Regions from separate parts of the Homo sapiens genome. Here all the other regions are linked to region 6. The links come from fine-mapping of genetic effects on gene expression. A gene starts in region 6. Each other region holds a variant in brackets. All regions are shown on one strand. Distances are from middle to middle. Region 1 overlaps PISD (phosphatidylserine decarboxylase). Region 2 overlaps SLC5A1 (solute carrier family 5 member 1). Region 3 overlaps SFI1 (SFI1 centrin binding protein). Region 4 overlaps OSBP2 (oxysterol binding protein 2). Region 5 overlaps EIF4ENIF1 (eukaryotic translation initiation factor 4E nuclear import factor 1). Region 6 holds the start of PISD (phosphatidylserine decarboxylase). Region 7 overlaps SFI1 (SFI1 centrin binding protein).

Evidence for each region. PIP is the estimated chance that this variant, and not a neighbour inherited with it, causes the effect. A credible set is the group of variants that fine-mapping cannot tell apart.
Region 1: its variant is the best candidate, but not a certain one, in a credible set for the expression of PISD in neutrophils (CEDAR, PIP 0.82).
Region 2: its variant is the best candidate, but not a certain one, in a credible set for the expression of PISD in whole blood (INTERVAL, PIP 0.62).
Region 3: its variant is the best candidate, but not a certain one, in a credible set for the expression of PISD in cerebellar hemisphere (GTEx, PIP 0.63).
Region 4: its variant is the best candidate, but not a certain one, in a credible set for the expression of PISD in monocytes after LPS (Fairfax 2014, PIP 0.89).
Region 5: its variant is the best candidate, but not a certain one, in a credible set for the expression of PISD in monocytes after LPS (Fairfax 2014, PIP 0.60).
Region 7: its variant is the best candidate, but not a certain one, in a credible set for the expression of PISD in hippocampus (GTEx, PIP 0.70).

What each region holds. Positions count from the first base shown.
Region 1 is chr22:31,633,767-31,637,857 of GRCh38, forward strand. All of the region lies in intron 3 of PISD (phosphatidylserine decarboxylase), which reads right to left. Among named protein-coding and RNA genes, the nearest start is that of MIR7109, 14 kb to the left of the region's middle. RefSeq lists a silencer at 339-388. The variant T/A (reference allele first, on the strand shown) is at 2,526.
Region 2 is chr22:32,048,932-32,052,931 of GRCh38, forward strand. It overlaps SLC5A1 (solute carrier family 5 member 1), which reads left to right. Exons shown (of 15, transcript NM_000343.4): 2 at 1,012-1,083. Among named protein-coding and RNA genes, the nearest start is that of SLC5A1, 7.7 kb to the left of the region's middle. The variant T/G (reference allele first, on the strand shown) is at 1,938.
Region 3 is chr22:31,603,997-31,608,087 of GRCh38, forward strand. SFI1 (SFI1 centrin binding protein) reads left to right here. Exons shown (of 33, transcript NM_001007467.3): 19 at 313-408; 20 at 873-949; 21 at 2,332-2,434; 22 at 3,941-4,037. Among named protein-coding and RNA genes, the nearest start is that of MIR7109, 15 kb to the right of the region's middle. The variant T/C (reference allele first, on the strand shown) is at 2,312.
Region 4 is chr22:30,783,238-30,787,237 of GRCh38, forward strand. All of the region lies in intron 2 of OSBP2 (oxysterol binding protein 2), which reads left to right. Among named protein-coding and RNA genes, the nearest start is that of MIR3200, 54 kb to the left of the region's middle. The variant C/T (reference allele first, on the strand shown) is at 2,324.
Region 5 is chr22:31,481,432-31,485,522 of GRCh38, forward strand. All of the region lies in intron 2 of EIF4ENIF1 (eukaryotic translation initiation factor 4E nuclear import factor 1), which reads right to left. Among named protein-coding and RNA genes, the nearest start is that of EIF4ENIF1, 6.4 kb to the right of the region's middle. The variant C/CT (reference allele first, on the strand shown) is at 1,778.
Region 6 is chr22:31,659,982-31,664,072 of GRCh38, forward strand. It overlaps PISD (phosphatidylserine decarboxylase), which reads right to left and starts at 2,234. Exons shown (of 8, transcript NM_001326411.2): 1 at 2,163-2,234. The coding sequence starts at 2,227. RefSeq lists enhancers at 71-965, 966-1,859, 1,155-1,294, 1,268-2,467, 1,685-1,734 and 1 more.
Region 7 is chr22:31,591,906-31,595,996 of GRCh38, forward strand. The region is part of intron 15 of SFI1 (SFI1 centrin binding protein); the gene reads left to right. Among named protein-coding and RNA genes, the nearest start is that of MIR7109, 28 kb to the right of the region's middle. RefSeq lists an enhancer at 738-1,546. The variant A/C (reference allele first, on the strand shown) is at 1,989.

The DNA of each region.
Region 1 (4,091 bases), 26 kb before region 6:
AGTTGGCCGAGATTAGCACTACCCCACCTTCCAACCAGACCTCCACCACACATATTTTCAGTGGGGAAATGCCTCTGGATTTTGAACAATCACTTACAAGTGAATTTCCATTAGGGAAAAAAAATTGTCTGGAAATTTACTTTCCTACCTTGTATTTATTTCCTTCAGGCCATGGAGTCCTTTATTTCCACGCCTCCCACTCTGTTAGGACTCCCTTGGGTGGGAGTGCCACCTAGTGCCACTGTGAGGCTCTGCAGGCTCTCAGGCCACCTGCAGATGGAGGCCTCCCTGCCTCAGTCAAGCCACCTGTATTCTCTGCCAGGTCCCAGCTGTGTGAATTTCATGCACTACTTCTAAGGGGATGCCCTGTGCCAGGGAACAGAAGGTAGCTGCGGAACAGGGGTAAAAGGTGTCCTCAGCTAATTCTCATTTCCTGGCTCTTGGCTAATTCTCATTCCCTGGGGGCTGGCAGAAGCCCCTCAAGGAAGATGGCTGGGGTCTTAACGGCTAGTACAAGAAACCACAGGCAGGCATCAGCCTCCCCAACGTCTGGGCAGAGAGGCCAGGCAAGCACAAAGTGCCTTCAGGCTATTTCTCTACACACCAGATTCTCCTATCCCTGCCCAACTCCCCACTCATCTTTGAGAATCGTTTTTGGCAGTCCCACTAGCCTGCAAGATGTCCCGGATACCCCTGGCACATTCAGAGCCCCACCAGCAGCTCCCCAAGGGCCCTGCCCAGGCACTCAGGAAGGGCAGACTGGGGTGGAATTCAGAAAAAGTGCTTTAGGCCAGACGTGGTGACTTAGTGTCTGTAATCCCAGCACTTTGGGAGGTCAAGGTGGGCAGATCACCTGAGGTGAGAAGTTCAACACCAGCCTGGCCAACATGGTGAAACCCCATCTTTACTAAACATACAAAAATTAGCCAGGTGTGGTGGTGCACGCCTGTAATCCCAGCTACTCGGGAGGCTGAGGTGGGAGAATCGCTTGAACCTAGGAAGCAGAGGTTGCAGTGAGCTGAGATTGCCACTGCATTCAGCCTGGGTGACAGAGCAAGACTCCATCTCAAAAAAAAAAAAAAAAAAAAATAGAAAAAGAAAAAGAAAAAGTGCTTTTAGGCCTGGCACGGTGACTCATGCCTGTAATCCCAACACTTTGGGAGGCTGAGGTGGGCGGATCACCTGAGGTCAAGAGTTCAAGACCAGCCTGGCCAACATGGTGAAACCCTGTCTCTACTAAAAATACAAAATTACTCAGGTGTGGTGGCACGCACGTGTAATCCCAGCTACTCAGGAGGCTGAGGCATGAGAATCGCTTGAACCTGGGAGGTGGAGGTTGCAATGAATTGAGATCGTGCCATTGCACTCCAGTCTGGGCAACAAGAGTAAAACTCCGTCTCAAAAAACAAAACAAAACAAAACAAAACTGCTTTTAGGTAGAGCCTCCTGGCAGACAGCTTCATGCAGGGCTGCAGGTATCTTGAGTCGGCCATCCCTCGATTCCTTCCAGCCCAGAAGTTTAGCCTTGTGTTTAAGTTCCATGTCTTTTTTTTGGAGACAGAGTCTGACTCTATCCCCCAGGCTGGAGTGCAGTGGAATGATCTTGGCTCACCACAACCTCTGCCTCCCGGGTTCAAGCAATTCTCATGCCTCAGCCTCCCAAGTAGCTGGGACTACAGGTACCTGCCACCACACTGGGCTAATTTTTGTATTTTTAGTAGAGATGGGGTTTCACCATGTTGGCCAGGCTCATCTCAAACTCCTGACCTCAGGTGATCTGCCTGCCTCCCAAAGTGCTGGGATTACGGGCGTCAGCCACCATGCCCCGCTGAGTTCCACATATTCTTGAGACACGGTCCCTCCGCTTGTCCACACACTGACCGCTCAAAGCCATTGGAGGTAGCTCCCAGGTGGGTCCTGGGCCACCTGGGGGCATGGCTGTATGAGCCACCGTTCCGCCCTCTGCGATCTCCTCCTGCCCTAGAGTGAGCCCACAATTCTCTGAGGTCAGAGCTGGCCCCTGCCAGCCAGTTCCAGTGGCATAAGAACACTACAGGAGTTCAGGTGGCACTGGGGCAGGCAGGAGGCTCTGCTTCCCTGCCAACTTGACTATTTGCCCATTTCCACACTCACACCTATTAGGTAAGAAGTAAAATAGTACTAAAGCTCCACTCCCTGCCAGCATGGGGCCAGGTATTTACATACACATCACTCTTATTTAACAACTTTATGAGGGCATGAATGGCCCTATTTATAGATGAGAATAATAAAGCTACAGCATGTACATCGCTCACCAACATGGAGAACACGTCCGATACTGCCCACTACCAGGTACACCGCGGCGCCAGGACGCGTGCTGAGCACAGGCCCATGGGGCTCCAGGAAGGGGACAGGGAGAGAAGGAGGACACAGGCCACTTCACAGGGTTCTGCCTTATGCTTAGGCTGAATGGTGGTAGACCAGACAGGCTGATCTGTCTTTATTCCTTTTGATGAATTGGAATACTGTACTATACATTTTTTTTT[T/A]ATTCTAAACGGAGGCTAGAAACAAGGAAGCAGCGCTCAGACAGGAGTGAGCATACCTGCAAGCCCAGCTGAGTAAGGCCTTTCCTGCACTGCTGCTCCCCAAACACCTCAGCCCTTGCCACAAGCCCCCAGGGCCATGCCTCAAAACAATAAAACCACCTTCCGGGTTCAAGCGATTCTCCTGCCTCAGCCTCCCAAGTAGCTGGGATTACAGGCACCCGCCACCACGCCCAGCTAATTTCTGGGTTTTGTTTTTTTTTGTTTTTGAGATGGAGTCTCACTCTCTCTCCCAGTCTGGAGTGCAGTGGCACGATCTCGGCTCACTGCAAGCTCTGCCTCCCAGGTTCACACCATTCTCCTGCCTCAGCCTCCCAAGTAGCTGGGACTACAGGCGCCCGCCACCACGCCCGGCTAATTTTTTGTATTTTTTTTAGTAGAGACGGGGTTTCAACGTGTTAGCCAGGATGGTCTCGATCTCCTGACCTTGTGATCTGCCCACCTCAGCCTCCCAAAGTGCTGGGATTACAGGCATGAGCCACCACGCCCAGCCTAATTTTTGTATTTTTAGTAGAGACGGGGTTTCACCATGTTGGCCAGGCTGGTCTTGAACTCCTGACCTCGTGATCCACCCATCTCGGTCTCCCAAAGTGCTGGGATTACAGGTGTGAGCCACCGCGCCCAACCTTTTCCCTTTTTTTAAAAAGATTACATATTCGTTGGGCGCAGTAGCTCACGCCTATAATTTCAACACTTTGGGAGGCCAAGGCAGCTATATCACTTGAGCCCAGGAGGTTGAGACCTGCCTGGGCAACACGGCAAAACTCTACAAAAAAAAATAATAATAAATAAATTAAAAAAAAAAAAAAAAAAAAAATATATATATATATATATATATATATATATATATATATATATAGAAAAATTAGCCGGGCATGGTGGTGCACGCCAGTAATTCCAGCTACTCAGCAGGCTGAGGTGGGAGGATCGCTTGAGCCTGGGAGGTTGAGGCTGCAGTAAGCTGTGATCACACCGCTACACTCCAGCCTGGGCAACAGAGCAAGACTCTCTCAAAAAAGAAAAAGTTGTGTTTTTTGTTTGTTTTTGTTTTTTTTTAAAAGAGGTTACATATTTACCATTAAAAATCTCTCACTGGCCCTAAACTGGCAACAGTCATCTAACCCTGGTCTCACGCCACTCTGAACCGGACCCTCCTCTGTACTTCCTCCTGCACCAGCTCGCGGCAGCCACAGGGCTGTTCTGTTCAGACCTGAGAGACCCATTCAGGCACTCACGCTGGGACGTGCATGTCACTTTACTCCAGTGACTGAGGACCTGAGAACTCCTTCGTCCTCCATTTTCCAGAGCAAAGAAGAAACAGTGAAAGCTACAGAAAAGCATCTCTGCTTTTGTGAAAGCACAATTCTCTTCCCATGCTGACTCAGTCTGGGGAAGAGGTCAACTTTTGGATCCACTCTTCTGAAGAAGCAAGTGTCCCGCTCCCCTCACCCGGCACTGGCTATCTTGAATCAGTGAAGAGGAAAGCTCTTCACTCCCTAATGTCACGTC
Region 2 (4,000 bases), 390 kb after region 6:
TAGTAGCACATGCCTGTAGTCCCAGCTACTCAGGAGGCTGAGGCACGAGAATTGCTTGAACCCAGGAGGCAGAGAGAGGTTGCAGTGAGCCAAGATCGTGCCACTGCACTCCAGCCTGGGTGACTGAGTGAGACTTTGTCTAAAATAAATAAATAAATAAATATATATATATATATATATAATCATTATATATATATAATCATTATATATATATAATCTATATTATATATAATCTATATCTATATCTATATCTATATCTATATCTATATCTATATCTATATCTATATCTATATCTATATATATGATGATTCCAGCAACCTGCTACCTACACCCTCAGAGAGGAAAGACTTGAATTTGTCTGGTCTTTTATTTAATATTTAGTACAAATGCCTTGCATTCTTAGAGCATTTTTTCACTTTTCTGGTAACAAAGATATAACTCACATCCCATATGGTACTTTTTAAAAGTATGATATTTCTTTTTCTTTTTTTTTTTTTTGAGATGGGTGTTGCTATGTTGCCCAGGCTGGTCTTGAATTCCTGGGCTCAAATGATTCTCCCACCTCAGCCTCCTGAGTAGCTGGGATTATAGGCACATGCCACCATGTGGCTGTAATCCCAGCTACTCAGGAGGCTAAAATAAATATAGCATTCATTAGGAACCTCAATATGCTTGTAAGAAAGGCATAAAAAGTTCCATTCCTGCCATTTAACAGACAAGCAAGCAGATCCAGGTGGAGTGACTTGCTGGAAGTGATACTGGAAGCTAATTTCGCACTAGCCCTACAGTAAGCTGTATGTATCTTCTGAGCCTCAGTTTCCTTGTCTGTCAAATGTAGGTTCCTGCCTCCTTCATCTAAGTCTTTTGAGGCTGCAGGGGAAGAAGGAATGTGAAAGTGTTTCAGAAAGTGGAGTGGGTAGAAGAAGGTGCACGAATGGGGAGGTATGTCCTTTTGGCTGGCAAGGCCACTCTTCTAGTTTTCGATTACATTTTTGACCCTTTCCTCCTCAGGCTATGTTTTCCACCAATCGTGGGACTGTTGGAGGCTTCTTCCTGGCAGGCCGAAGTATGGTGTGGTGGCCGGTAAGTTTTCTCTGAAATGCTATTTACATAACTGCTTAACTGATACTCCCTTTAGGAACTCATTTTCTTCTTGGCTTTGGGTGGTGGTGATTCTAGGATTCAAGGATCCCAACCAGATTCTTGACAGTGAGTCTCATGCTCATCGGGTCTCCTGGGCACCCTTAATCTCTTGTAGTAAGGGAATAGCCTTTAAATAAATCACCCTTAGAGTCCTTCAATAAAATACAAAGTTGGTTCAAAGCCTATCATTGGTCCATAAATCCATAACCAGAATATTAGTTCTCAAATGCGCTGGCCCAAGGAACATATCACAGGGGTCAGAGGCTCTCCACTGCTGACATCTCACTTGCCCTTTGCCCCTCCATCTGCCTTTATCCCAGTCGCTTTGTGCCACAGGAAGAGTGGGCAGCAGAGAAGCTTCTGGAAGAAGGAACAACTTGTATTGACCTGGGTTGATATACCTGAGACAGAGAGGGTTTGGGTTGTCACCCACAAGAAAAGTAGGAGAAAATCAGAGCTCATAAAGTCTGAAAACATACTGGATAGAGGAGAGACTGGTTTTGGGCATTCCTGGGGTTTAGGGGGCTTTGAAAGGAGTGGTTATGACCTGAAACAGGTGAAGATTCAGAAACTCTGGAAACAGACTCTGTTCCTGAAAACTGAATGAGGCCCAGAGAGAAAAACAGTTTGTGTGTTGGCTTGAGGATAGAAGCAAGGGACAATCAGAGGGAAGGAGCAAGGACTCCAGGATTGAAATTACAAGAAGAGTCAGCTTACATAGGGATCTGGGCTGGGAGGTCCCCGGAAGCCTGAGTCATGCTTGAGGCAAGCCAAGGCAACTCATCTGAGTAACA[T/G]GAAACCATGAAACTGTACCTTACGTAACTGTGGGCTGGTTGGTGGCCCAGGATTCCCTTTTTATGTGGCACCAGGGTTTGCCACGTTTCACTCACAGCTGTCTGTGCGGAGATGTGATGGTAGGAAAGCTGTGAAGCTCAGGGGCTGAGCTTCGAAGGGGAATTCCCCACTCTTTGGATATTGGCAGCAGAAATTACACAGAGAAGTGAGGCCCCAGGTACACAGCCCAGTGAGAGACTCTTGTTTTGGAAGAGAGTTTGATCACACCTACCAGGACTACTGGCAGAGCCAGCTCCATGGGATCAGCTCCCTTAGATTCAGAAAGAAGCATTCCAAAGGGCAGGGAGTGGGAACTGCACAAGGAGCCACAGGATTTGGCTTGTTCCAGCTTTGTGACATTGGGCAATTCATTAATCTCTGAGTCTCTGAGAGTCTCCTCTATAATGTGGAGCTGGTCAGATAAGGAATCTCAAAGGCTCTTCCAGGACTAAAATTCTAAGTTTCAGCTAGGCACAGTGACTCACACCTGTAATCCAGGCATTTTGGGAGGCAGAAGTGAGAGAATTGCTTGAGCTCAGGAGTTCAAGACCAGCCTGGGCAACATAGCAAGATCTTATCTCTACAGAAAAATTAAAAACTAGCTGGGCGTGGTGGTGTGCACCTGTAGTCCTAGCTACTTGGAAGGCTGAGGTGGGAGGATCGCTTGATCTGGGAAGGTGAAGGCTACAGTGAGCCATGATTGCATTACTGCCTTCCAGCCTGGGGGACAGAGTGAGACCCTGTTTCAAACAACAACAACAACAACAAAAACCCCAAAAAACAAAAACAACAACAACAAAAATCCCAAACCCAACAACAACAAAACAACAACAAAATAGTTGACAAACTTTTTCTGTAAAGGGCCAGATTCTAAATATTTCTAGCTTTGCTGCTATGCAATCTCTGTCACAACTATTCCACTCTGCTGTTGTAACACAAAAACATCCAAGGAAAATGGATGAATGAATGGATGTGGCTGACTTTATTTGCAAAAATAGGTGGAGGGCCAGATTTCTTGTTTTGAGGACACACACAGACAGTCTCAGAACAGAGCCTGGCACACATTAAACCCTCAGGTTTAGCTCTTGTTCTTCTTTGCAACTGAAACCTATTGAAGGACTGTCATATCACTTATCTGATTGAATCCTCAATGATCTAGTGAGGTAAGTAGAGTGAAGATGATGATTAACCCCATGGGTTGCCCACGTTTACACAAGATAATGACAGAGCTAAGACTTCCTCTGATCTTCTGGTTATTCAGGTCTCTTTCTCCTTGTCTTTTGAGATGGAAATTTATGAGGCCAATTGGTGTGGCCTAAAGATTGGTCTGAAAACCAAGAAATTATTTCATTTGGGGCCGACCAGAGACCCTGATGAAAATTTTCCCTGAAGAAAGAGGACAGGTTCTCAAACTTTTCAAGTCCTCTTGGGTAAAATATATCTGATTTTATCGTTATGTTTCTAAAACCTAATGATCAGGTCAAAGTCCAGCCACTTATGATGTCACCAGAGGGGCCAAAGGGTGTCTTAGAAAAACCTGGTAGTCCCAACACATGGGTGGGGAGCTCATGAATTGGAGAGGAAGAGAGGGAACCAGGCAACTGGACATGAGAGAGGCAGGGATGCACTCCAGGAAGAAGTGAGAAGGAAAGATAAGTACTTGACTCTTCATAAGCCTGGGGGAAACAATTCCTACCTCTTCTGGCCCAGGTCCATTTGGCCCTCTCTCCCTGCTCTACTTGCTTTTTACCTGCATGTGCTCTTACTTATCCCAGTGCCCTGTGATGAGAGCTAGGCCTACGCTTTTCTTAATTTTTTTTTTTTGGCCTCACAACACCAAGGCCTTGCACTGCAAGAAGGCACTTGACAAATATGGGCTGAATTAAAGAGAAATGAGGGAGAAGAGGGACATGTCCCCAGAACCTCATGCTGGTCCCCCTTAGTGGTGTCACCTGAGACCTGAGTCTATATTCTGGCCTCTGGTGCAGGGGCCACACAGTATAGACAGTGGTAAGAATTCAGG
Region 3 (4,091 bases), 56 kb before region 6:
TGTTCTTTCAGATCCTAGGCTGTTCTTATTTGAACTTACTGCATCTAAAATTCCTGATCTAACCATTTACAGGAGTCCTACGTCCTACTGAGTGTAAAACATGTTTAAACTCACATTAATTGAGCTTTTACCGCAAATCAAGCACTTACCTCATCAAATCATCACAGAACCCCTAAGAAGCACGTATTTATAGATGAGGCCAGAGAGGTTAATTTACACTCACACAGATGATGTATAAAATGGAGGCAAAGCAGGAAGCCACCCCCAACTCAGACCCCAGCCCACGGTAGCTGCTTTCTCCTCTGTCTGCAGTGCCTGGCCCTGCGGGGAGCGGAGCGGCAGAAGCTGATGCGAGCAGACCTGCACCACCAGCACAGCGTGCTGCACAGGGCGCTGCAGGCATGGGTGGTAGGAACTGCTGCTTCCCTCCTGATCTTGCTGTGGGGACAGGGGAGGTTTCTGGAGACTTTGTTTTCCTTCCTTGTTCTTCCTGTCCGTCCCAGAACAGAGTCACGTGACACACCTCAAACCAAGCAGGTGCCCCGGACAGCGGGCCTTAGGCCATAGGGTTCTTTGATTCTTGCTTGGCCAAGTGGAAACAAGTGCTGTCTGTGGGTACTAGCCTTGTAGCGAAAGCAGCTCCTTTCCCTGGAGTCCCATGGTTTGACTTAGGAGGTGAGGGCCTGTGAGACAGTTTCTCCCTGTCGTCTGGGAGGGTCTGCTGGCCCTGGGACCAGGGGCTGTTGGCCTCTTCCTACCCTTTTTGAGTTCTCTGGGCATGGCAGCCTTGTGGTAGATGCACCTCTGAGGCCTGCCTAAACAGGGGGAAGTGTGGGCCCAAGAGCAGCCTCAGTCTTCCTTGTCCCCTACAGACTTACCAGGGCAGGGTGCGAAGCATCCTCCGGGAGGTGGCAGCCAGGGAGAGCCAGCACAACAGGCAGCTGCTGCGGTGAGTCTCCCGGGCGCCTCCCAAGCTCCAGCTGGGGAACAAGGAATGCACTCCAAACCCCAGCCTTTTAGGGGGTCCTGCTGAGGGCCAGGTCGGGGATGATCCCGGGTTCCTAGTCGCTAATATCATGGTCTTGGCTTTTCCACTTCACTCACGGGTTCGCCTTCATGTCTTAAGCCCCTGCTGTGTGCAGGGCAGGACCTTGGAAAGCAGCTGTTACCTGCATGCCTTAAAGGCCACTTGTCTTGCTCTTCTGAGCACTTTTTCCTCCCTGCTTCACGCCTACAAAATTCAGCTTTGCAAGGCACCTTGTCATCTCTTCCACTCCAGAGGCTTCAGCGACTCCCTTTCCTGTCAATTTCCAAGTAGTCCCCTTCCAGCTTGCTCTGCAGGCCTGTCACTGACTCTCCAGCGTCACCTCTAGGCCCTGTCAGACCATCTGCACCACTCACCCCTGTGGAGGGTGCTTCTGCAGCTTCTGCCACTCTTTCTAAGCCCAACTCTAACCTCACTCCTTCCCAGCAGTCCTCCCACATGCCCCCTTTCATTTCCTTCCTTTGTATTTGTTCAGCACATGATACTCCTGGTGGCCTATGGACAGTGGGTCTCGTGGACTTTAAACACCTCCATCCTTAGCTGGGCGCGGTGGCTCATGCCTGTAATCCCAGCACTTTAGGAGGCTGTTTGACACCAGGAGTTTCAGACCAGCCTGGGCAACATAGCGAGACCTTGTCTGTACTAAATATAAAAAAAATTAGCTAGGCACGGTCATGTATGCCTGTGGTTCAGGTACTTGGGAGGCTTAGGTGGGAGGGTCACTTGAACCTTGAAGGTCAAGGCCACAGTGAGCCGTGATTATGCCACTGCACTCCAGCCTGGGCGATGGAGTGAGACCCTGTCTCTCAAAAGTAAATAAATAAAATAAATGCCTCCATCCCTCATATGGAGTCCCATAGAGCACCCATCCCGCTCTTCAGACAGGGTGGAATAAGCAAGAACTCCCTGAGCTAACTCAGCAGCAAGCTGAGGCGTAGGCAACCTTCCTCCAGGTTCCCTGTCTCTCCACACTTCTCTTATCACAGTGTGAGTCACCTGTGTTGCCACTGCCTGGTTATGCCCTGTTATCCCCGTAGCACCTGGAGTTTGGTCTCCAGCAGTGCTGGGTCCCTCATGCACTCTTGGTGCCCAGCCCAGAGCAGCTGCTCAGTAGCCATTTGTTGGACATAGATGTGCAAGTAAACATAGGTGTTGGTGAAACAGACATTCTTAGGTGTAGAGTCCCTGACTCAGGAGTAGGGGAAGAAGTAGGAATGATTCACAGAAGCCTCCCTTCTCTCTCTATCCTGGTGTCATCTGCCTTCC[T/C]CGCACCCATGCATCTGCAGCGGGGCATTACGTCGCTGGAAAGAGAACACCATGGCCCGAGTGGATGAAGCCAAAAAAACCTTTCAAGCAAGTACTCATTACAGAAGGACCATATGTTCCAAGGTGAGGTATAAGGAGGCAAGCTGGTCACCCAGGAGAGTTGGGACTGTGTTCTGGTGAGGGCGTGGGATGTAGGGGGTGGTGCCAGAGATTTGAACTGAATAAGGAACCTAGAAAATGGGTAACTTTCCTCCAGCACACACACAAACATCCATGTGGGCACATGTTTAGTTTTTTACTGAATTACAAACCAATATGCATTAAATAGAAACATAACACATCATAAGTGAACTAGTTCTTATCAGAACCAGTATTTTCTTTTTTTCTTTTTTTTTTTTTTTTTTTTTTTGAGACAGTCTCACTCTGTCACCCAGGCTAGAGTGCAGTGGTATCATCTCAGCTCACTGCAACCTCCATCCCCCAGGTTCAAGCGATTTCTCCTGCCTCAACCTCCCGAGTAGCTGGGACTACAGGCTTGCGCCACCACGTCCGACTAATTTTTGTATTTTTAGTAGAGATGGGGTTTCACCACATTGGCTAGGCTGGTCTTGAACTGATGACCTCAGGTGATCCATCTGCCTCAGCCTCCCAAAGTGCTGGGATTACAGGCTCTTTGAATCCAGGAGGTGGAGGTTGCAGTGAGCCGAATTGCACCACTGCACTCCAGCCTGGACAACAGAGCAAGGTTGTCTCAAAAAAAAGAAAAGAAAAGAAAAAATACCCGAAGCTAGCCTGTGCCTCCCTTCCCCTGGAAGAAGGAACACAGGAATCTTTGCTTGGCTTCAGAGCTTGAAGAGGAGGCCTTTTTGGTGGGAATGGAGTTCATGACAGCTCGCAGAGCAGGCACCAGGCATTCCCTGGGCAAGTGTTTTGTTATTGTGATTTTGTAGGCATCACTCATACAAAAGAATGTATACGACGTAGGTGTGTTCCATTTACTAAATAGTAATAGAGGCCGGGCGCAGTGGCTCACACCTGTAATCCCAGCACTTTAGGAGACTGAGTCGGGTGGATCACTTGGGGTCAGGAGTTCGAGACCAACCTGGCCAACATGGTGAAACTCCGTCTCTACTAAAAATACAGAAATTAGCTGGGTGTGGTGGTGCATGCCTGTAATCCCAGCTACTCAGAAGGCTGAGGCAGGAGAATCGCTAGAACCTGGGAGGCAGAGGTTGCAGTGAACCGAGATCATGCCACTGCACTCCAGCCCAGGTGACAGAGCGAGACTATGTCTCAAAAAAAAAATTACATATATATATTTTATATATATATAAAAATAGAATTAAGACCCATGTATATAATGACTTCACTACTTTATGGCATGGTATGATATGTAAATCCTGGTAGAAGAGTCCCAGCAGCTGAAATGCTGGGCTTCCTGTGAGGGGCTGGGGCCCTGTCCTATTGCTCAGTGGTCTGCGTGCAAGGCAGTTACTTCCTGGACCGTGTGTGAGAAGCAAATGGCAACAGCTTGGCCTTGCCTCTCCAGGAGCCACCGTCACAGACCTGGGGTGGACCCGGAAGCCAGGAGGTATAGTGACTCTTGCTGTGCTCCTTGCCTGCCCATAGGTCCTGGTCCAGTGGCGGGAAGCTGTGTCAGTGCAGATGTATTACCGACAGCAGGAGGACTGTGCCATCTGGGAGGCCCAGAAGGTGCTGGACAGGGGTAAGTGGGGCCCCAGAAGCAAGTCATGTTGAGGAATGTGAAGACAGCGCTGTT
Region 4 (4,000 bases), 880 kb before region 6:
CTGTTTTCATTCCCCGAAGACATAAAATACCACATCTCAGAGGCAGGGAGTCTCATTCAGAGAGCTTTTTTTTTTTTTTTTTTTTTTTTTTTTTTGGTGACAGAGTCTTGCTCTGTTGCCCAGGCTGGAGTGCAGTGGTGTGATTGCAGCTCACTGCAGCCTCCAAACCTCCACCTCCTGGGTTCAAGCGATTCTCCTGCCTCAGTCCCAAGTAGCTGGGACTACAGGTGTGTGCCACCATGGCCGGCTAATTTTTGTATTTTTAGTTGAGACGGGGTTTCACCATGTTGGCCAGGCTGGTCTCGAATTCCTGATCTCAAGTGATCCACCCACCTTGGCCTCCCAAAGTGCTGGTATTACTGACGTGAGCCACTACGCCAGGCCAGAGAGCATATTTTGTCTAAACATAAATTAATAACTGCAATACCGATAATACTATTGCTTCCCAAATCTGCCTGGTCATGTAAAAGCTTTGCCGTTGGGAATGCTGGCATAAGAACGCAACTTACGGCGATTTCTTAGAAATAGAAAAACCATGACACCTTGATGCAAATGTGCCTCTTCTCAACCTGGCGCTCTTGCTCGCAACATTGCCCCTTGACCCTGGAAGCTTCCTAGGGCAATGCCTAGTTAGGTAAACCAACTGGTGCTGAAGAGGAGAGCTTGGGTCTGGGAAATGCCCATTGTAATCACTTGGGACCGTGTTACTTGAAAGTGGCCTTCAGCATGTATCTGCAGAATGATTGTTTCCTTCCAGGAAGAGGCTTCAGAAGCAGGGATGGCATCTTTACGATTGACGTAGGTTTCTATGGTCCTGTCCTGAGTGGGTAGTTTCATAGAGGCCTCTGTTTTTTAAAATACTGCAGATACAAATCCTAGATTTTCATTCTTAGCACTAGAATGGCATCTCCAGAAACAGATTTATGTATTTGTAGGAATTCACTTAGTGATAAAAGTACCATTCAAATCACTTGGAAAAGAAGGAACCATTCAACAAGTGTGATTTATTTATTTATTTATTAATTTATTTATTATTTTGAGACAGGGTTTCTGTCACCCAAGTTGGAGTGCAGTGGCATGATCACAGCTCACTGTAGCCTTGACCTCCTAGGCCCAAGTGATCCTCTCACCCCAACCTCCTGAGTAGCTGGGACTACAGGCACATGCCACCATGCCTGGCTGATTAAAAAAAAAAAATTTTTTTAAAGACGAGGTCGTGCTATGTTGCCCAGGCTGGTCTCAAAGTCCTGGGCTCAAGTGATCCCACTACCTTGGCCTCTCAAAGTGCTGAGATTACAGGGATGAGTCACCGTGCCCAGTTGACAAGTATGCTTTTAATTGTATCCTTCTGGAATTTGTTTTTCTGCAAGTTGTGAGAAAGGCATCTAATTTTTATGTTTTCTAAAAGTGTATCTGATTTTCTCAATAGCATTTACTCTGATTTTGAATACTCGTCTTCACTGACATTTTATCAATTCCTGTGCCTAATTACTGTAGCTTTATAATATAATTTGACAGCTGGTAGAATAAATCCTCCTCATTTTTTTTTTTTTTGAGATGTGTCTTGCTCTGTCGCCCAGGCTGGAGTGCTGTGGCACAATCTCAGCTCACTGCAACCTCCACCTCTCAGGTTCAAGCGATTCTCCTGTCTCAGCCTCCTGAGTAGGTGGGATTACAGGCATGCACCACCATGTCTGGCTAACTTTTTTCATTTTTAGTAGAAATGAGGTTTCACCACGTAGGCCAGGCTGGTCTTGAACTCCTGACCTCAGGTTATCTGCCCACCTTGGCCTCCCAAAGTGCTGGGATTACAGGTGTGAGCCACTGCACCCAGCCTCCTTTACTGTTCTTTAATTTTTAAAATGTACTGGAGTTTTCTCTTCCATGTAAATGTTAGAATCAGCTTAAGTTGTATTAAAAATACCTCATTGGGATTTTGTTTGGTATTACATTTTAATTGTAGATTTAAACTTTCCTCTGTAACCAATGTAATGTGGGCCCTGTTTTGGAGCAGAGAGTACCTTGCACCCATTAATGCTTAATCTTTCCGGCCCGGCACAGTGGCTTATGCCTGTAATCCCAGCACTTTGGGAGGCCAAGGCAAGTGGATCACCTGAGGTCGGCAGTTTGAGACCAGCCTGGCCAACATGGTGAAACTCCATCTCTACTAAAAAAAAAAATTAGCTGGACATGGTGGCTGGTGCTTGTAATCCCAGCTACTCAGGAAGCTGAGGAAAGAGAATCACTTGAATCCAGGAGGTGGAGGTTGCAGTGAGCCAAGATCGCGCCATTGCACTCCAGTGTGGGTGACAGAGTGAGACTT[C/T]GTCTCAAAAAAAAAAAAAAAAACAGGCTTAATCTTTCTGATTTAGAAAGTTTGCTTTCTTGCTAAATTTTATAGAGGTTAGTGATATGATTTGGCTCTATATCCCCACCAAATCTCATCTCAAATTGTAATCCCCACATATCGAGGGAGGGAGCTAGTGGGAGGTGACTGGATCATGGGGGCAGATTTCCCCCCTGCTGTTCCAGTGATAGTGAATGAGTCCTCATGAGATCTGGTTGTTTGATAAGTGTCTGGCACTTCCCTATGCTCCTGCTCTCTCTCTCCTGCTGCCTTGTGAAGAAGGTGCTTCTTTCTCCTTTGCTTTCCACCATGATTATAAGTTTCCTGAGGCCTCCTCAGCCATGCAGAACTGTGAGTCAATTAAACCTCTTTTCTTTATAAATTACCCAGTCTCAGGTAGTATCTTTATAGCAATATGAGAATGGACTAATACAGTTTGTGTGTGTGTGTGTGTGTGTGTGTACAGAAGTCTCGCTGTGTTACCCAGGCTGGAGTGCAATGGCACAATCTCGGCTCACTGCAACCTCCACCTTCCAGGTTCAAGCAATTCTCCTGTCTCAACCTCGAGTAGCTGGGATTACAGGCGTGTGCCACCACACCCAGCTAATTTTTTGTATTTTCAGTAGAGATGGAGTTTCACTATGTTGGCCAGGCTGGTCTCGAACTCCTGACCTCCAGTGATCCACCTGCCTCAGCCTCCCAAAGTGCTGGGATTTCAGGTGTGAACCACTGCACCCAGCCTCAGTTAGTGTATTTTAAGTCAGTTAATATTTACAATAAATATTGACTGTACATCTCTCTGTGCCAGACAGCACTAGGAGGTGAGGAGTCATGGAAAACAAAAATCAATGACACCTGCCAGAGACCCCACTGCCTGCTGTGGGGAGACAGACAAACCAATACAAAATCATGATGCAATGGCCCAATGCTTCACCATGGTGAAAGGCACCTAGCCCAGTTTTGAGGGTCGGGAAGGTTGCCTAGAGGAGGTGATATGTAAGCTGAGATCTAAAGGGTGAGGAGGAATTCACTTGTTGAAGATAGGAGGAGTACAATTGAAAATGAGGCCCAGAGGTTGGGGAGATCCTGGCTGTTCAGAGAGCTAAAGACACCTCATTGGTGGCAGGAGCAGAGGGTGGGGGTGGGGTGGGGTGGGGTGGGGATGCCTCAAGATGAGGCTGGAGAGACTAGCAGGGCAAAACATGCATCAGGAAAGGTGTTTTGTTTTGTTTTGTTTTGTACAGTCTTGCTCTGTTGCCCAGGCTGGAGTGCAATGGTGCAATCTCGGCTCACTGCAACCTCTGCCTCCCAGGTTCAAGCGATTCTCCTGCCTCAGCCTCCCAAGTATCTGGGACTACAGGCACGTGCCACCACACCAGGCTAATTTTTTGTATTTTTAGTAGAGACACGGTTTCACTGTGTTAGCCAGGATGGTCTCGATCTCCTGACCTGGTGATCCGCCTGTCTCGGCCTCCCAAAGTGCTGGGATTACAGGCGTGAGCGACTGTGCCCGGTCAGGAAAGGTCTTACCAGTCAGATTCTCCACCTGTGTTAGTCCGTTCTCACACTGCTAATAAAGACATACCCAAGACTAAGTAATTTATAAAGGAAAGGGGTTTAATAGACTCACAGTTGAGTATGGCTGGGGAGGCCACA
Region 5 (4,091 bases), 180 kb before region 6:
CATACCATAATTCTACCTTCTCCAACATAAATAGGTATCCTTAAATTAGTTTAAGAAGTTTATACCTAAATTTGTCACAGAAATGCCACCTGAGTTACTACTCAGTTTATAAAAGATACATTTAGTTATCAAATAAGATTTCTGTACTGGAAAAAGGGACCACCTGATTCCTGTTTCAACCTAGGATTTAAATCAGTTACTCTTTTCTCTGGGGATTGGCTTCAAGTCTTCTGATTATATCCAAGAAGGCTAGGATGACTCAAGTCAGTCACTTCAACTGCTTGTCCATTTTCCTGATTGTTTTAAAGGAAAGACAAACATGGCTGTACTGACTGCTATGACCAATTGGCCTACCAGCCACAAATTAGGATGGCCTCCCTTAAAGATCCCTGGAGACACTAATGACTACAATAATGCCACTTTGTAACTAGTCAAGGTTATGAGGAGTCCACATGGGGCCAGATGCAGTGGCTCACACCTGGAATTCCAGCACTTTAGGAGGCTGAGGCAGGAGGATCGCTTGAGGTCAGGAGTTGGAGACCAGCCTGGGCAACATAATGAGATCCTATCTCTACAAAGAAATGAAAAAATTAGCCATGTGTGGTGACACACACCTGTAGTCCTAGCTACTCAGGAGGCTGAGGTGGAAGGATCGCATGAATGCAGAGTTCGAGGCTGCAGTGAGTTAACTGTACCACTGCACTCCAGCCTGGATAACAGTGAGAGCCTGTCTCAAAAAAAAAAAAAAAAATTCCACATGAAGTTAAACTAAGATAATTCAACATTCACTTAACTTTAATACGCATGTTTAACACTGGTCAGTATCAAGCTGAATGTTCTGAGTGTCTCTGCTTTTATTCCCTGTCCAACTGGCAGGTGACAGTCATTTAATAAGGAATCAGTGGCAAAACACAGGAGCAAAGGAAGAACAGCATAACGTATGTATCCTTTATAAGATTAGTCTATTTGGCCGGGTGCGGTAGCTCACGCCTGTAATCCCAGCACTTTGGCAGGCCACGGCAGGTGGATCACTTGAGGTCAGGAGTTTGAGACCAACCTTACCAATATGGTGAAACCCCGTTTCTAATAAAAATACAAAAATTAGCTGGGCATCATGGCACGTGCCTGTAATCCCAGCTACTCAGGAGGCTGAGGCAGGAGAATTGCTTGAACCTGGGAAGCAGAGGTTGCAGTGAGCCAAGATTGCAACACTGCACTCCAGCCTGGGTGACAGAGTGAGACGCGGTCTCAAAAACAAACAAAAAAAAACAGATTAGTCTATTCACTTGACGAAAATAACATGGATGTGAGGCCAGGCGTGGTGGCTCACGCCTGTAATCAGAGCACTTTAGGAGGCCAAGGTGGGTGGATCATGAGATCAGGAGATCGAGACCATCCTGGCCAACATGGTGAAACCCCATCTCTACTAAAATGTAAAAAAAATTAGCTGGGCATGGAGGCACGCGCCTGTAGTCCCAGCTACTCAAGAGGCTGAGGTAGGGAAATTGCTTGAACCCGGGAGGCAGAGGTTGCAGTGAGCCGACATAGGGCCACTGCACTCCAGCCTGGCGACAGACAGAGACTCTGTCTCAAAACAAAAAAACAGAAAAGAAAACCACATGGATCTGAATAGTGGGATGGCCTAAAACATTTCTATTTTGTATTTCAAGCAGAAGATGGCATCACTAACAGAATAGCAGGTACTATATTCCAGAACTGGTGAACAAGGGCTTCTGGTGAAGAAAAAGTTGAATGAGCACCACTGCCAGGAGACGAT[C/CT]TTTTTTTTTTTTTTTTTTTTTTGAGACAGGGTCTCTTTTTGTTGCACAGGCTGTAGTGAAATGGCGCGATGATGGCTCACTGCAGCCTCAAACGATTCTCTCACCTCAGTCCCCTGTGTAGCTGAGACTACAGGCAATACGCCACCATACCTAGCTAATTTTTAAATTTTTTTTGTAGTGACAGGGTCTTGTCATCCTGCCCAGGCTGGTCTTGAACTCCTGGGCTCAAGCAATCCTCCCATCTCAGTCTCCCTAACTGCTGGGATTACAAGTGTGAGCCACCACACCCAGCGAGCAGGTGATCATTTCTTAAGCCAATGGTTCTCAAACTTGAACCAGAGCCAGAATCCCCTGAAGAGCTTGTTAAATGCAGACGGTTAAGCTCTACTCCCCAAGTTTCTCCTTTAATACCACTGAGAAGAGGCCTGAGATTTGTATTTCTAACAAGTTACCAGATGATGCTAATGCTAGTTCAGGGAGCACACTTTGAGAACCACTGTCTAAACCACTCTTAAACCATAACTTTCAGGTGAGACCCCACTCTATAACCTCCAAAAGTCCTTCAACATGATCCGATCACTTTAAAAATGCATACTTAGATACTACCAAAATATAGCTTTTGGTCTTAGGAATGTGGCCTAGAAAACAGACCAGCATTTATAACTTAGGGGTTCAAGACCCTCAGGGTAACAGGTGCATATGATAAACCCATTTATAACCATCCCACAATGAGATTTAGGAGTAGGTCTGAATGCACCCAATGTGACTCTAACTTGAGGTCCTAAAATATTCTTCGAAGCACAATGAACATCATCTGAACCCCAAAGAATAACTATGCATCTGAGTTACTTGACACCACCAACACCATTTATCAAGTTCTCTAAGGAAGACCAAAGCCTTGATACTTAAAGTATAGTCAGTGGACCAGCAGCATGTGCACCACTTGGGAGTGGGTTAAAAAGTAGAATCTTCAGGACCACCCCTGCTTACCACTCAGAATTCCTTTCCCAAGGCCTAAAGGTGATCCCCCAGGCATATTAACATTTGCGAAACAAGCTAACTAAAGGATGTCTTCACACAAAAGGAAACTCTGGTACATTACTCTGAAAAGCACCTGACCAAAACATTTATACTTCTTCTACTCATGGGGGAAAAACAAAAACTCTTCGAATTCTGAACAACAAACTACTAACATTATCCCAGAAAGCAACTGAACACTAAACTAAGAAGGGTCAATGGTTAAGGGGCCCTCTCATCTGGCCAACGTGTTTTTTTGACCCTGTAAGTAAACATACACAGCTACAAGTTTCCACAGAATACACCACCTATTTAAAAAAAAAAAAAAATCACCGGCCGGCTCACACCTGTAATCCCAGCAGTTTGGGAAGCCAAGGTGGGCGGATCACCTGAGGTCGGGAGTTTGACACCAGCCTGACCAACATGGAGAAACCCTGTCACTACTAAAAAGACAAAAATTAGCCGGGCGTGGTGGCGCATGCTTGTAATCCCAGCTACTCAGGAAGGTGAAGCAGGAGAATAGGTTGAACCTGGGGCGGAGGTTGCGGTGAGCGGAGATGGCGCCATTGCACTCCAGCCTGGGCAACAAGAGTGAAACTCCACCTCAAAATCACCAGTGAAAACAGTTTCCCTCTACTGCTTCTAGATCTTCTAGCCCGTGAACTTGAAGTGGCAGAAACATCATTAAAGTCTATTTATTCCAGTACTTTGATCTCAGTACATAGACAAGGAAGAAGGATGGTTTGAATATTATTCCAGTTGTGGAACTAACATATTTATTATAGTGCTAGGAACACATAATCATTTCAAGCTCTCTTTAAAGGGAGAAGACTTCTTTATCCCCAAGTCCCGCATAGAATTACTAGAGTGTTGAAAACCATGAAAGCACTACCCTAACACTGCCTAAACACTATCCTAAAATTGTCATTAACTAAATCCTCTTAAGAGTAGAAAGTAAACCTATTTCCAATTAATTTGGTAGAAAAGACTTAAATCTAAGCTCCACTGTCATTAAGCTAAAAAATGCTTTTAACCAGTTCTTCAAGGCACATTTATCTACGTATGACAGAATTCTGAGGCTGGACTGTCAAAAATGGACAATACTGAGGTTCTTAATCTTTACTGCAAAGAAACATAAGTCCTACCCTAAGAAAGAGAAATATCTCCCTAAAAATGATGTAAGCATAAAGATAGAAACATACACAAAGATGAAATATACATGTTAACCTCTGATCGGTGTGTGAAAGTGATTCAAAAGCCTCTCTGCCTGGACTCTACCAGTAGACTACTGGTTAG
Region 6 (4,091 bases):
TCTTTTATCAAATGAGTTTAGGAAACATGGCCCTAAATTATCACCCAAGATGTTATCTATCACCTGTCACACATCACCCAGTTATTGAAAAACTTACCTGAAATATAAGGTTTTCATTTACATGTCTCACAAATAGGCACTGGTTTACTAAAAACCCACAGAAATGTTATCTTTTTGGTTTGTGTATTAATATCATTTCTATCTTGATATAGAATACCTTTGAAAATTAAGGTTTCTTATTGTACCCAAATCTTCATCTCTCTCACCCACTGCATCTAAGTCTAGCCTTATCTATCTACACTGGTACTAAAACATAGCTTTTTTTCTTTCCCTTTTAATGATGGTGACTGAGGTACAGCCTCCTCTCATCATTTAAAAAAATTATTTTAGGTGGACTGCGATGGCTCACTTCTGTAATGCCAGCACTTAGAGAGGTGAAAGTGGGTGGATCACTTGAGCCCAGGAGTTCAACACCAGCCTGGGCAACATGGTGAAACCCTGTCTCCACCCCCACCCCCAAAAAAAATGCAGCTGGGCGGGGTGGCGTGCACCTGTGGTCCTAGCTACTCAGGAGGCTGAGGTGGAAGAACTGCTTGAGACCAGGAGGTGGAGGCTGCAGTGAGCCATCATCACACCACTGCACTCCCTCTTGGGCAACAGAGTGAGGCTCTGACTTCCAAAACAAATAACAACAACAAAAAACAATTTTTTAAGAGTCTCATTTTAGTCCTTTCAATTCGTGACACACTTTATTTATTTTTAATTTTTTTGAGACAGAGTCTCACTCTGTCGCCCAGGCTGGACTCCAGCGGCGCAGTCTTGGCTTATTGCAACCTCCGCCTCCCAGGTTCAAGCAATTCTCCTGCCTCAGCCTCCCAAGTAGCTGGGATTACAGGTGCCTGCCACCATGCCCGGCTAATTTTTGTATTTTTTAGTAGAGACAGGGTTTCACCACATTGGCCAGGCTGGTCTCGAACTCCTGACCTCAAGTGATCCACCCACCTTGGCCTACCAAAGTGCTGAGGTTACAGGCGTGAGCCACCGCGCCCAGCCTGTGACACACTTTAAATGAATTCAGGGTTGACTCATACACAGCACGCCTGGTAATAACATTGAAAACAAAGTCTCCTGCCCAAATTCTAACAGTTACCACCACAATGCAGAGCCCTCTCCTGAGAGATAATCATTTCTGTACAGTTAATGATGAAAGAGTGACGCTTTCATAACAAGACCAATGATGGTTTCTGTTCCCTCTCAGTCCAAATCCAGTGTCCGTCTCCTCCCAAAACAATAGGTTATCCTCTGATCAACGCTGACAAAATGAACCCTGTAGGAAACACACAAGTATGGCGCATCTCTCAAATCTTAGCTCTTTGAAATGACACCAGGCAGCCGACTCTGAATCACAGCTACATTTTAATCCATTTTCCGACACTCCAAATGCTCTAAGCTATTTTCTGTATAACCACTGCCCTCACGGCGGGCAGCCTGAGAGAAAGATCGTCGCGTGAGGGGGTACCTTGATGGGGGTCCGGGCTCTGCTACAAACTGGCTAGGTGAACTTGAGCAAATCCCTCCCTCTCTCGGAGCCTCAATCTCATTAACTCCAAAGAGAGACAGCTGGACTCAGAAGACCCCTCAAGTCTCCCACATTTCTAAGAATCTAACAGCTGGGGGTCACAAGGGTAACCAAGACTCTAGCCCCATAACATATTGTTTTGAGATTACCTAACCTAACCCTCTAGCTTCAAAGACTAAGATCCAGAAATGAAAGTTGCCTGACACTCAATCTAGTGTCCTTCCCACAGGACATCATTCCTTCTACGAAAACGAACACACGAGAAAATGGCATCTGAACATCTGAAAGCCCTGCCTCGACTCAAGAGACGGGCAGGTAGCCTATTTCATCTGATTTTTGTCCCTCGTGAACTTCCACCTAGCTGGAAAGGGCAAAGCGCGAGCTTCTAGGCCACACCCTAAGTAAATCCGGACCGCCCTACGCAGGAGCAGTCGCACCTGCTCCTAAGCTCGAGGTGAAGGTGGCTCCGTCTCCACCCGAGCTCGCCTCAGAGCGAGCCCGCGACACAGAAACATCTCTCTTCAGACCCCAGCTTGGTCCAGGTTGCCCCACGCCCCAAGGTAGTCTCTCCGCGCTGCTATACCTGCTCCGCCACGGCGCGACCCCGTGCAGTAATCCCAGACATCGGTGCCCCACGGACGTCGCCATCTTGTCTGCTCCTTCTCAGCGTGCCACGCCCCCTTCACACGCTGGGCGCACGCTTAAGGCGTCACGAGTCTCGAGTTCAGTGGGCCAATGAGAAAAGCGCGGGTTGGGGGCGGAGCCGACTAAGCTCCGCCCTGTGGCTACTCCCCACCTAACCCGCTTGGCACCTGCGGAGGTAGGGGAACTAGTGGAGCTGTAGGTTTCGCTAAACCTGGGCTTGGTCGCAGCACTGCCACTCCTCCTCCTTCCCTCTGGGTGCCTTTCCTCATGTACCTGGAAAATCTGAGTCATCCAAGATCCAAGAATGTCGTTTCAAGTGATCGAACTTGCTCATTTTACGGATGGGGAAACTGGGCATCCATGACTCAGCTCTCGTTTTTTAAGCGCCGGAGTGTGTTGTGAGCACTTTGCAAGCATGGTGTCATATCATTCTTATCTCCTACCGCTGTGCTGCCAGGGAGACCGGGGGCAAACGGTCTTGGATCACCTAGAAATGCAACCAGTCGTTAAATTCGGTGCCTGGTGCTTGCTCTTGAAAAGGTTCCTATCTTCAATTGTAAGAGGAAAACGAGTTTTCAATCATGTCTGCTACTTTTTACTGAGCACTGACTAGAGACTCGCAGCTAGGCCCGAGACATTATCCCCATTTTAAAGATGAGGTACCTGAGGCTCAGGAAGGTTAAGCAACATCTTCAAGGGTACATAAAGGGCATATGCCCAAAGACTATAAAATAGTGAAGCCAGAATTTGAACATACGTCTCTGACTCCAAAAACCATGTCCTAAACATCTTCTTCTTTTTTTTTTTTTTTTGAGACAGAGTCTCTCATTGTCGCCCAGGCTGGAGTGCAGTGGCGCGATCTCGATTCACTGCAAGCTCCGCCTCCCGGGTTGACGCCATTCTCCTGCCTCAGCCTCCCGAGTAGCTGGGACTACAGGCGCCCGCCACAACGCCCGGCTAATTTTTTTATATATATTTTTCGTAGAGACGGGGTTTCACCATGTTAGCCAGGATGGTCTCGATCTCCTGACCTCGTGATCCGCCCGCCTCGGCTTCTCAAAATGCTGGGATTACAAGCGTGAGCCACCGCACCTGGCCTAAACATTCTTCCTTTTAAGCCCTTTGTCAGAATCTGGCAGAATTTGGGTCCAACAACTGAAGGAATGCAGCCCTACTTTTTCATCTGCTAAGCTGATAATCACAGTTGCCTTCACCAGGCATTTGACAGGAGGAGGAATATGCTCCCTGGTCCCTGCAGGTATTTCTGTGTAGTTGGCTTAAGTTCAACTAGGGCATACTCAGCTCCTACAGAGAGCTTAAAAGGCACCAGGTTTGGTATTGGGGGGAAGAAACCTCCCTTTGTCATGGTTTTCAAAAGTCGGAAAAGAAAAAAACAAATGTATAGAATTGGTTTTGGCCGGGCGCAGTGGCTCACGCCTGCAATCCCCACTCACTGGGAGGCTGAGGTGGGAGGATAGCTTGAGCCAAGGAGTTGAGACCAGCCTGGGCCGGGCGCGGTGGCTCACGCCTGTAATCTCAGCACTTTGGGAGGCCGAGGTGGGCGGATCACGAGGTCAAGAGATTGAGACCATCCTGGCTAACACGATGAAACCCCATCTCTACTAAAAATACAAAAAAAATTAGCCGGGCGTGGTGGCGGGCGCCTGTAGTCCCAGCTACTCTGGAGGCTGAGGCAGGAGGATGGCGTGAACCCGGGAGGCGGACTTGCAGCGAGCCGAGATCGCGCCATTGCACTCCAGCCTGGGTGACAGAGTGAGACTCCGTCTCAAAAAAAAAAAAAAAAAAAAAAAGGAAGTAAAAAAGAGACCAGCCTGGACAACATAGTGAGACTCCATCTCTTTTTTTT
Region 7 (4,091 bases), 68 kb before region 6:
TGACCCCCCCCACCTCCCTCCCAGACGGGGCGGCTGGCCGGGCAGGGGGCTGACCCCCCCACCTCCCTCCCGGACGGGGCGGCTGGCCGGGCGGGGGGCCGACCCCCTCACCTCCCTCCCGGATGGGGCGGCTGGCCGGGCGGGGGGCCGACCCCCCCACCTCCCTCCCGGACGGGGCGGCTGGCCGGGCAGAGGGGCTCCTCACTTCCCAGTAGGGGCGGCCGGGCAGAGGCGCCCCTCACCTCCCAGACGGGGCGGCTGGCCAGGCGGAGGGCTGACCCCCCCACCTCCCTCCCAGACAGGGCGGCTGGCCGGGCGGGGGGCTGACCCCCCCACCTCCCTCCCGGATGGGGCGGCTGGTTGGGCAGAGGGGCTCCTCACTTCCCAGTAGGGGCGGCCGGGCAGAGGCGCCCCTCACCTCCCAGACGGGGTGGCTGGCCGGGCAGGGGGGCTGACCCCCCCCACCTCCCTCCCGGACGGGGCGGCTGGCCGGGCAGGGGGCTGACCCCCCCACCTCCCTCCCGGACGGGGCGGCTGGCCGGGCGGGGGGCCGACCCCCTCACCTCCCTCCCGGATGGGGCGGCTGGCCGGGCGGGGGGCCGACCCCCCCACCTCCCTCCCGGACGGGGCGGCTGGCCGGGCAGAGGGGCTCCTCACTTCCCAGTAGGGGCGGCCGGGCAGAGGCGCCCCTCACCTCCCAGACGGGGCGGCTGGCCAGGCGGAGGGCTGACCCCCCCACCTCCCTCCCAGACAGGGCGGCTGGCCGGGCGGGGGGCTGACCCCCCCACCTCCCTCCCGGATGGGGCGGCTGGTTGGGCAGAGGGGCTCCTCACTTCCCAGTAGGGGCGGCCGGGCAGAGGCGCCCCTCACCTCCCAGACGGGGCGGCTGGCCGGGGGGAGGGCTGACCCCCCCACCTCCCTCCCGGACGGGGCGGCTGGCCAGGCGGGGGGGCTGACCCCCCCATCTCCCTCCCGGACGGGCTGGCTGGCCGGGCTGAGGGGCTCCTCACTTCCCAGTAGGGGCGGCCGGGCAGAGGCGCCCCTCACCTCCCGGACGGGGCGGCTGGCCGGGCGGGGGGCTGACCCCCCCACCTCCCTCCCGGACGGCACGGCTGGCCAGGTGGGGGGCTGACCCCCCCACCTCCCTCCCGGACGGCACGGCTGGCCGGGCGGGGGGGCTGACCCCCCACCTCCCTCCCGGATGGGGCGGCTGGCCGGGCGGGGGGCTGACCCCCCCCCACCTCCTTCCCGGACGGGGTGGCTGCCGGGCGGAGACGCTCCTCACCTCCCAGATGGGGCGGCTGCCGGGCGGAGGGGCTCCTCACTTCTCAGACGGGGTGGTTGCCAGGCAGAGGGTCTCCTCACTTCTCAGACGGGGCGGCCGGGCAGAGACGCTCCTCACCTCCCAGACGGGGTCTCGGCCGGGCAGAGGCGCTCCTCACATCCCAGATGGGACGGCGGGGCAGAGGCGCTCCCCACATCTCAGACGATGGGCGGCCGGGCAGAGACGCTCCTCACTTCCTAGATGTGATGGCGGCTGGGAAGAGGCGCTCCTCACTTCCTAGATGGGATGGCGGCCGGGTGGAGACGCTCCTCACTTTCCAGACTGGGCAGCCAGGCAGAGGGGCTCCTCACATCCCAGACGATGGGCGGCCAGGCAGAGACACTCCTCACTTCCCAGACGGGGTGGCGGCCGGGCAGAGGCTGCAATCTCGGCACTTTGGGAGGCCAAGGCAGGCGGCTGGGAGGTGTAGGTTGTAGTGAGCCGAGATCACGCCACTGCACTCCAGCCTGGGCACCATTGAGCACTGAGTGAACGAGACTCCGTCTGCAATCCTGGCACCTCGGGAGGCCGAGGTTGGTGGATCACTCGCGGTTAGGGGCTGGAGACCGGCCCGGCCAACACAGCGAAACCCCGTCTCCACCAAAACCAGTCAGGCGTGGCGGCGCGTGCCTGCAATCGCAGGCATTCGGCAGACTGAGGCAGG[A/C]GAATCAGGCAGGGAGGTTGCAGTGAGCCGAGATGGCAGCAGTACAGTCCAGCTTCGGCTCCGCATGAGAGGGAGACCATGGGGAGACGGAGACGAGGGAGAGGGAGAGGGACAGGGAGAGGGAGAGGGAGAGGGAGGTGTCCATCTTTATTTCAAGGGCTTTCAAAACAGCCTGTTTGTAACCTTCATTATTAGCCACTGAGAGCTCCATTAAAGCAGCCCATTAGCTTTCTGGATCAGAGCACGGTGGGACCTTGCCTCACCTTGGCAGACATTCTTAAGTGTCATTTCCCCGAAACACTTAGTTCCTGTTCTGCTAGACCTGGCTTTTTGAAGTCTTGAAATGATAGTCATCAACAAAATTACAAAGGTCGGGCCGGGTGCAGTGGCTCACACCTGTAATCCCAGCACTTTGGGAGGCCGGAGCGGGCGGATCACAAGGTCAAGAGTTCAAGACCAGCCTGGCCAACATGGTGAAACCCTCTCTTTACTAAAGATACAAAAATTAGCCCGGTCTGGTGGCACATGCCTGTAATCCCAGCTACTCGGGAGGCTGAGGCAGGAGAATTGCTTGAACTTGGGAGATGGAGGTTGCCGTGAGCTGAGATCGCATCATTGCACTCCAGCCTGGGTGACAGGGCGAGACGCCGTCTCAAAAAAAAAAAAAAAGAAAAGAAAAAGGCCGGGCCTGGTGGCTCATGTCTGTAATCCCAGCACTTTGGGAGTCCAAGGCGGGCGGATCACGAGGTCAGGAGATCAAGACCATCCTGGCTAACACGGAGAAACCCTGTCTCTGCTAAAAATACAAAAAATTAGCCGGGCGTGGTGGTGGGCGACTGTAGTCCCAGCTACTCAGGAGGCTGAGGCAGGAGAATGGCATGAACCTGGGAGGCGGAGCTTGCAGTGAGCTGAGATCACACCACTGCACTCTAGCCTGGGCGACAGAGTGAGACTCTGTCTCAAAAAAAAAAAAAAAAAAAAAAATTAGAAAGCTCAAGGAGCAGATCTACATCTTTTTAGTTCCCACAGGGACAAACTTGCCCACAGCAGGTTCTTAGTATATGGTGGGACATAATGAAGAAATAATAATAATTTATTTATTTATTTATTTATTTATTTTTGAGTTGGAGTCTTGTCCTTTCGCCCAGGCTGGCATGCAGTGGCACCATCTTGACTCACGGCAAACTCCACATCCTGGGTTCAAGTAATTCTCCTGCCTCAGCCTCCCAAGTAGCTGGGATTACAGGTGTGCGCCACCACGCCCGGCTAATTTTTTGTATCTTTAGTAGGGACGGGGTTTCACCATGTTGGCCAGGCTGGTCTCGAACTCCTGACCTCGTGATCCACCCGCCTTGGCCTCCCAAAGTGCTGGGATTACAGGCATGAGCCACCACGCCCAGCCTGTAATGAAGAAATTATTAATCACTAACTGTATGTCTGCCACTGTGTTGGGCATTGTGTGATGGGAGACAGAAAACAAATACATAAACTCATTCTGCCCATGGCATCATTATCTTCATTAATAATTTCCTTTTCACAGTGATTCTGAGAGGTCAGGTTCAAAATGATAAATGGTAACACAACCAGTAAGTGGTACAGCCAGGTTAATTCACATCTCCAGTTCCAAAGTCCAGGTGCTTTCTTCTTGATCAAGAGGAAGATCTTTTTGATGACTTTGTAGGAGGGTGAAATTTTTGTGAGGAGATAAGAAACAACTGAGAACCAATTCAAGAGAACAGATCCACGTGTCCCCAGTCATGTCAGCCACAAGTTCTTCCAGTGCTCAGAGCTAGTGCTGAGGGAGACTGAGCATGGAAGTATCTGGGAGAGGCTTCCTGTGAGTGAGAGGGTGAGGATGGTGGCTGGAGTGGGCAAGATGGGGAGGCCCAGACTGAAGAGATTGGGCTGACCCTATAGATAGATATTCGAAAGATATTTGAGCAGGTACATGGAACTAGTAAAATGACAGTTTTGGAAATTACCTTAAGTTCAGTGTACTTTATCTTAGGACAGAGGGGTGAGATGGAGGGGCATGCATTGGGAGAAGTTGCAGTCATCTTTAATCTGGAGGATTTCAGGCCAGGTGTGGCGGCTCATGCCTGT